Homo sapiens: one gene and its partner. Each later gene encodes a partner of the first gene's protein in a complex. Each region holds a gene or a part of one and is shown on either strand. Other genes may lie near its edges. A codon is read from its position in the direction of its gene.

Region 1 (3,742 bases):
AGCTACCTGGGAGGCTGAGGCAGGAGAATCGCTTGAACCTGGGAGGTGGAGGTTGCAGTGAGCCAAGATTGGGCCATTGCAACACAGAGGTTGGGGTAACACAGCAAGACCCTGTCTCAAAAAAATAAAATAAAAATAAAAAATAAAGGTAAAGAGACTAGTTGGGAGGCTATTTGTAATAAACCAGGATTTGTCTGCCTCAACACTACACTACTGACATTTTGCATCAGACAATTATTTGTTGTGGGAGGGTTGTCCTTAGTATTGTAGAATGTTTAGTAGTGTCTCTAGTGTCTGTTTACTAGATGTTAGACAACCCCTAGCCCCCTATATGACATTGCCAAATGTCCCTATGGAGACAATATCACCCCCAGTTGATAACTGTGTGTGTAACAGACCATGTGAGAAATAAAAAAGGGTGGATGTTAGACATGGGTAAGGACAAAATCTAAAAGCCTTGGCAAGTGTTTGGATAGGCTTGCAACTGAGAAAGAGGGAGTGTTGAAAGCTCAAACAGAGAAAGGTCCTAGAGGCCATGTACTGTAGTCTAATATGCTTATCATTGCTTGAAACATTGTAAACCCTCTTGGAAGGCAGTTTGGTAAAACCTATTAATAATCACAAAAAGTATCTTACTTTTTGACCCAGCACTTTTATTTCTGGGAGTTTATCTTAAATGATTCAAATGAAGACAAGGAATCTTTATGTACAAAGCAATTAGTTGCATGACAGACAGTGACCACGTTCTCAAAAATTACACCCGCATGCCACCACATTGCCTGTTAAATTAGAAGCCGATTTAAGATCCTGAGTTTAAGAGCCAAAGAAGTTGTAGCTAAAGAAACAAAATCCCAGAGGGGCAGGAAGGGCAGATATCAAGAATGCAAGTAGAGAAATTCTTAACTTATTTTTCAGAGAGAGGACAATGAATTTGAGAATTTGTATTGGAGAAAAGAGGGAGAGAAGTTAGGTGGAGGAACTCCTAGATAAGGCTTCAATCAGTGAATTCATCTGCAGAGCAGAAGTTTCTGCGGAACTCAAACTGCCTGGGGGCATTCCTTGAAAAGAAGAATTCTGCACTTTTTGGTGGGAACCTGCCGGTGGAACATCCTGTTTAGAAATGAGGACATCCAAGGAACACTGCAATGTGCAGAGACTAGAAGGAAAAAACAGTCAAGTAGCCATTTCTCCTGGGGAGTCTCTAGTAACTTGATTTTGTGCTTCTTCTTGTTTTTTGAGACAAGAGTCTCACTCTGTCGCCCAGGCTGGAGTGCAATGGTACGATCTCGGCTCACTGCAACCTCCACCTCCCGAGTTCAAGCAATTCTCCTGTCTCAGCCTCCCGAGTAGCTGGGACTACAGGTGCAAGTCACCACACCTGGCTAATTTTTGTAATTTTTAAATTATTATTTATTTTTATTTTTTTGAGGCGGAGTCTCGCTCTGTCGCCCAGGCTGGAGTGCAGTGGCGCCATCTCGGCTCACTGCAAGCTCTGCCTCCCGGGTTCACGCCATCCTCCTGCCTCAGCCTCCCGAGTAGCCGGGACTACAGGCGCCCAGCACCACGTCCGGCTAGTTTTTTGTATTTTTCTTTTTTAGTAGAGACGGGGTTTCACCGTGTTAGCCAGGATGGTCTCGATCTCCTGACCTCGTGATCCGCCCGCCTCGGCCTCCCAAAGTGCTGGGATTACAGGCGGAGCCACCGCGCCCGGCCAATTTTTGTAGTTTTAGTACAGACGGGGTTTCACCATACTGGTCAGGCTGGTCTCGAACTCCTGACCTCAGGTGATCCACACACCTCGGCCTCCGAAAGTGCTAGGATTACAGTCGTGAACCACCGCGCTTGGCCGCAACTTGATTTTTAAATTGCTCTCTGAGTGTAGATTCCTTGTTTGTTTGGCAAGGGTTCTTGCCGCTGCCGCTACAGCTTGAAGCCAAACATTTAATGAAAGAGAGCGGGAGGGGCCGAATAGAAGAATGATGGGCGTGGCCAACCCCGAGGTGGCTGGAGGCCGCGCCCCCTTCCCAGAGTGCACCGCAGCCGCTGCATTCAGGAACCGCTTTAGCTTCGCCCCCGGCCGGCCGGGCGGGGAAGACTGGTGTGGTCTGGCCATGGATGGGCTCCAGGCCAGTGCAGGGCCGTTGAGGCGCGGGCGGCCGAAGCGCCGGCGCAAGCCCCAGCCACACAGCGGGTCGGTCCTGGCCCTGCCCTTGAGGTCCAGGAAGATACGAAAGCAGCTGCGAAGTGTTGTATCCCGCATGGCAGCGCTGAGGACGCAGACGCTGCCTAGCGAGAACTCGGAGGAATCGAGGGTGGAGTCGACGGCCGACGACCTGGGGGACGCGCTACCCGGTGGGGCGGCGGTGGCGGCCGTCCCGGACGCAGCCCGGCGAGAGCCATACGGCCACCTGGGGCCCGCAGAGCTGCTGGAGGCCTCGCCCGCCGCGCGCTCCCTGCAGACCCCGTCGGCGCGCCTGGTGCCCGCTTCCGCGCCGCCCGCGCGCCTGGTGGAGGTGCCCGCCGCGCCGGTCCGGGTGGTGGAGACCTCGGCCCTGCTGTGCACCGCGCAACACTTAGCGGCCGTCCAGTCGTCCGGGGCCCCTGCGACGGCGTCGGGGCCGCAGGTGGATAACACGGGTGGGGAGCCGGCCTGGGACTCCCCGCTGCGGCGCGTCTTGGCCGAGCTGAACCGCATCCCCAGCAGCCGGCGGCGAGCGGCCCGCCTCTTTGAGTGGCTCATCGCGCCCATGCCGCCAGATCACTTTTACCGGCGCCTATGGGAGCGCGAGGCGGTGCTGGTGCGGCGGCAGGACCACACCTACTACCAGGGACTTTTCTCTACCGCTGACCTGGATTCGATGCTGCGCAACGAGGAGGTGCAGTTCGGCCAGCATTTGGACGCCGCTCGCTACATCAACGGACGACGCGAGACCCTGAACCCACCCGGCCGCGCGCTGCCCGCCGCCGCGTGGTCCCTGTACCAGGCCGGCTGCTCCCTGCGTCTCCTCTGTCCGCAGGCTTTCTCTACTACTGTGTGGCAGTTTTTGGCTGTGCTTCAAGAGCAGTTTGGAAGCATGGCAGGCTCCAACGTTTACCTCACGCCCCCTAACTCGCAGGGCTTTGCCCCCCACTACGACGACATCGAGGCCTTCGTGCTGCAGCTGGAAGGTAGGAAACTCTGGCGTGTATACCGACCCCGAGTCCCAACCGAGGAACTGGCTCTGACATCCAGCCCCAACTTCAGTCAGGACGACCTCGGTGAGCCGGTGCTGCAGACCGTGCTGGAACCTGGAGATTTGCTGTATTTTCCTCGGGGCTTCATTCACCAAGCTGAATGCCAGGATGGAGTCCACTCTCTGCACCTCACCTTGTCCACGTACCAGCGCAATACCTGGGGTGACTTCTTAGAGGCCATACTGCCTCTGGCAGTGCAGGCTGCAATGGAAGAAAATGTGGAGTTTCGGAGGGGTCTGCCCCGAGACTTCATGGATTACATGGGGGCCCAGCATTCAGATTCTAAGGATCCGCGAAGAACCGCTTTCATGGAGAAGGTGCGGGTCTTGGTTGCCCGCCTGGGACACTTTGCTCCTGTTGATGCTGTGGCCGACCAGCGAGCCAAAGACTTCATTCACGATTCTCTGCCCCCTGTTTTGACTGATAGGGAGAGGGCACTAAGTGTTTACGGGCTTCCAATTCGCTGGGAGGCTGGAGAACCTGTAAACGTGGGGGCCCAGTTGACAAC
Region 2 (3,742 bases), on another chromosome or scaffold:
AAGATGGGTTTGTCAATTCGGCCACCTCCAGCCACCACACCTGTAGGGGATCAGATACCTCAGGGAACCCCCAGTCGGTCAGAGCACCCCCACCTCCCCTCAATCTCCTGTCATGCACCTTCCCAATACTGCATCCAACTACCCAGCAAAAAGCCCACTCGCCTCCACCCTAGGGAGCCCCTTGCACCCTGTGAGCTGACATCCAGTTTCTTCAATCCACAATGGGCAGGCAAGCCAAGGCCCTCACCTCCATCACCTAGAATGCTGGCTGAGCTCCAAGCGCAGGGAAGCACCCCCCTCACCATGTGTGAGACGTCAGGCCGGCCACTCAACCTGACGTAAGACACTTGATTCAGCCTGCCCCATCTCAGCTTTACTTATTCCAGGAACACAACCTCAGAGCCTCCCCTGTGCGAGGCTGAGTTCATCACAAGGATTCCAAGATGTTCCCAAACAGCACAGTGAGTTAACCTAGACTCAAATCCTTTTTCACTCACTCAGTAGGCGTCTTTGAGAAAGCCACAATCTCTCCCTGCCTTCTCTAAAAAGGCTGTTAACCAACTGCATGCAAGTGCAGCAATCAGGAAGCCCACGGTAGAATCCAAGACCCTGGTGACTTCGTCCCAATCTCATTTAACGCCTCAACAGCAGTAAAGCAGGTACTGTTGTGCCTGTTGTACAGTGATGACAACTGAGACTACAGGATGAGCTCAAACTTACAGAACCCAAGTTTTAGAACAACAGGTAATCGAATTCCAGGGACCAAGTCTAGCCACTGGCTGTCCACCGGCACTCACAGCATGTTCACCCACAGCCCTCAGCATTCAACTGCTGCCTGATACTCACCAACCACAGCTCTGTTGGCTGAGGAGATAACCTTCTTGGAGCCGGAGGGCAGCTTCACACGGGTCTTCTTGGTCTCAGGGTTGTGGGAGATAACGGTGGCATAGTTCCCTGATGCCCGGGCCAGCTTGCCACGGTCTCCAGGCTTCTCCTCCAGGCAGCACACGATTGTACCCTCAGGCATGGTGCCCACAGGGAGCACATTGCCAATGTTGAGCTGGGCTGCAAGGGGAAGCAGCATCAGGCCGTCAGCACAGTAAGAAACAATGCGAACCCCCTCGCTCTAGGCAACCCGCGAAGTTGCGAGCACAGCATTCAACATCCAGCCTCCCGGTACAACTCTCTCGGCACCCACCGGTGGCCACTGGTCTGGCCACGCGGATGTCCCCACCTGAAGCTTCTGCCTGCGAGGTTCCCATATCGGCTTAGGACGTTAACTCCTCAGGCAACACCCAGACCCCTCCCCACCCCGACCTTCCTTCCCCGCCGCGATGCTAACCCTTCTTGCCGCAATACACAAACTGGCCCGTGTGAATGCCCTCGGCGGCAATGAACAGCTCCGTCCGCTTCTTAAACCGATACGGATCCCGGAAGACCACCTTGGCGAGGGGCGCGCCGCGGCCCGGGTCGTGGATGATGTCCTGTGGGCAGAGGCGGCGTGAGTGCGGCGTTCCGGCCGGGCGTCCCTTCCCCTCCCGCCCCGGCCAGCGTTCCGCACCTTGACGATGCCCTTGATGTAGCCGTGCCGCTCAGCGAAATCCACGGCGCGCAGGCGCGCAGCGCCTTTACGGTGCTTCACGTGCGCGCGGAACACAGACCCGGCGCCCTTCCTCTGTCCACGGATCACACGGCCCATGGCGACGGGTCCTGGGGGCGACTCACGATTAGCGCGGCCGGGCGGCCCGGGTACCCCCGCCAGCCCGGCTTTCCGGGACCCCGCCCCCGAGGCCGCCGCGCCCACCACTCCCTACCCTCTCCGCGGGCGCCCGCACCGGCATCCTCTCAGGAGGGCCGGTCCGGGTCTCAGCGCGCCTCACGGAAGAGGATGGCGGCGGATACTGCCCATGCCGCAAGGCCGCAAGGATGACCTACCTGTTCACCAGCGCGGCCGAAAGAGGAAACACGGCGTCAGCGAGCGGCCTTATCTTCCGGGGCGGGGCCCAGGGCCGCGACACCTTCCGGGCGCGCCACGGCCAGCCTAGCGCGGTGCACGCCGGGGCTTGTAGTCACCAGCGGCCGCCGGCCCCGCCTACTTCTCCTCCTCCAGGGCCCCCGCGCAGGCGCACCAGGAGACGCGGCTGAAGGTGTCCTGGTGTGCGTGGGCTCGGAAGGAGGGTGCAGGAGTGCTCGGCTTTCACCGGGGTCTCCGGGAGGGCAGGTGTTTTCTGAGTGGCCGAGGAGGCGCCAAGTGGTTGAGTGACCTGTCCAGGGTGTCACAGAGCGACCCACTCCGGGCCACGGGGTCTGGGGCTCCCGGCTTGCCTGGTGAGGGGCTTCCGTGTAGGCCGAGGGGGTTCTCGCTGGTGCAGAGCAGGAGATGGGCAGGGGAGACGCGTGGACCCACTCGTGGAACGTCATGGTTTGCAGGTGGCAAATGTCCGTCTCCCTGATGAACGGGCGCTTCTGGACGCGGGGACCTTATCCACTGTAGGCCCTTGGAGAGGTCGGGCGTCGAGGAGAGGAGCCCCGGGATCCTTGCCGAGGGTGAGGGCCGGCCGGCCCAGGAAGTGGGGAGGGCCAAGCTGGAGGGTCCCGGGTCGAGGAAGAAGGAGCGGGGATGGGCTGGGTCACATGCTGCGGAGTGGACGAATAATGGGAGACTGGACCGTACCCTGACCAGAACCCTGTGCGGGAGAGGTGGGGAAGGAGCAAGAAATGGAGGCTGGGAGGGGCTGTGGGGGCCTGAGCTGGAAAGAGTCAGCCCGACTGGGGGTGTCCTGCGGTACGTGCTGTGGAGAGGGGCTTCGCGGAATCGGGCCCCTAACGGGTGGGACCCCGAGGCCGCGGGTGGGGGATGGTGGGGAAGAGGTTTTCCAGGAGAGAGTCCCTGGCTGAGTGAGCACTGTCGAGCACACGCGAGGCCGTGGGTGGGGAGGCAGCAAGGAGGTGAAGGCGGGGGTCCCAGTGGGCGGGAGAGGCTTGCTGTCGGTACTGGGAGGTGGGGTGTTTCCTAGACCCTGCAGGGGCTGAGGCAGGGTTGACATCGTGAGAAGGAGACAGGAGAGGGTGGAAGGGTGTCCTGTGCCCGCTGTTGCTCACAGGGGAGAGGAGGGGCTGCTGCAGGAGGCCCTCCCCTAGGGTCGGCAGGGGGATGGAGGAGGAGCTGCCCGGTGGGGACTCAGGAAGCAGCACAGCCCACAGCTAGGGCCAGGGGCTGAGGGGCAGGACTGGACCCTGGGGGCAGGGTGAGGGGTTCTGGGGTCAGCCCAAAATTGGCCCACAGGCCCAGCCTGTCCGTCACTCCTGAACAAATCTGCTTCTCTGGAGGAGCAGAAGGAGAGTTGGGTGCGGGATAGAGGTGAGAAGAGTGCTTGGACACACAGGCTGTGGGGTCCCCAAGATGGTCTCACGGGTCTCTGGGATGAGATGCGGCTACCAAGACCCTACGTGCAGCCAGGAGACTGACCAGGCCGCTTTAAGGCTGGAAGAGACATGGCCCTGCCAGCATCCACCTGACAGTCCTGAGGACTGTGTGACTGGGCTCAGTCTTGACCTTCACGGGAGACCACACAGCCTGGTACACAGCAGGGGCTATGCAGTTCTGGGTCACTTGACAGCCACTCCAGACGAGGCCGCAAGCACTGGACATGGGGTTTTCCAGCCTTCTGGGGTGGAGCCATCTTTCTTAGGCCAGGATTAGTCCCTCCCCACACAGTGCCTCTGCTTGTGCTAGTGGCCT

Evidence for each region.
Region 2: the proteins of RIOX1 (region 1) and RPL8 are in contact, whole or in part, in a crystal structure (PDB 4CCN), measured with the Homo sapiens proteins. Residues at the interface, in NP_078920.2 of Homo sapiens: Gly259 (codon at 2,886), Gln260 (codon at 2,889), Arg272 (codon at 2,925), Thr274 (codon at 2,931), Arg297 (codon at 3,000), Met322 (codon at 3,075), Ala323 (codon at 3,078), Gly324 (codon at 3,081), Ser325 (codon at 3,084), Asn326 (codon at 3,087), Tyr328 (codon at 3,093), Phe337 (codon at 3,120), His340 (codon at 3,129), Asp342 (codon at 3,135), Ile344 (codon at 3,141), Ser374 (codon at 3,231), Asn376 (codon at 3,237), Thr419 (codon at 3,366), Ser421 (codon at 3,372), Thr422 (codon at 3,375), Gln424 (codon at 3,381), Tyr577; in NP_000964.1 of Homo sapiens: Gly213, Gly214, Asn215, His216, Gln217, His218, Ile219, Lys221, Pro222.

Annotation. Positions count from the first base shown.
Region 1 is NC_000014.9:73,488,907-73,492,648, forward strand, and holds the start of RIOX1 (ribosomal oxygenase 1), read left to right. Parts: upstream 1-2,026; 5' UTR 2,027-2,111; coding exon 2,112-3,742. UniProt on the Homo sapiens protein: Oxygenase that can act as both a histone lysine demethylase and a ribosomal histidine hydroxylase. Specifically demethylates 'Lys-4' (H3K4me) and 'Lys-36' (H3K36me) of histone H3, thereby playing a central role in histone code.
Region 2 is NC_000008.11:144,790,431-144,794,172, forward strand, and holds the start of RPL8 (large ribosomal subunit protein uL2), read right to left. Parts: upstream 1,961-3,742; 5' UTR 1,700-1,960; coding exon 1,562-1,699; exon of another isoform or gene 1,501-1,561; intron 1,485-1,500; coding exon 1,343-1,484; intron 1,066-1,342; coding exon 847-1,065; intron 41-846; coding exon 1-40. UniProt on the Homo sapiens protein: Component of the large ribosomal subunit. The ribosome is a large ribonucleoprotein complex responsible for the synthesis of proteins in the cell.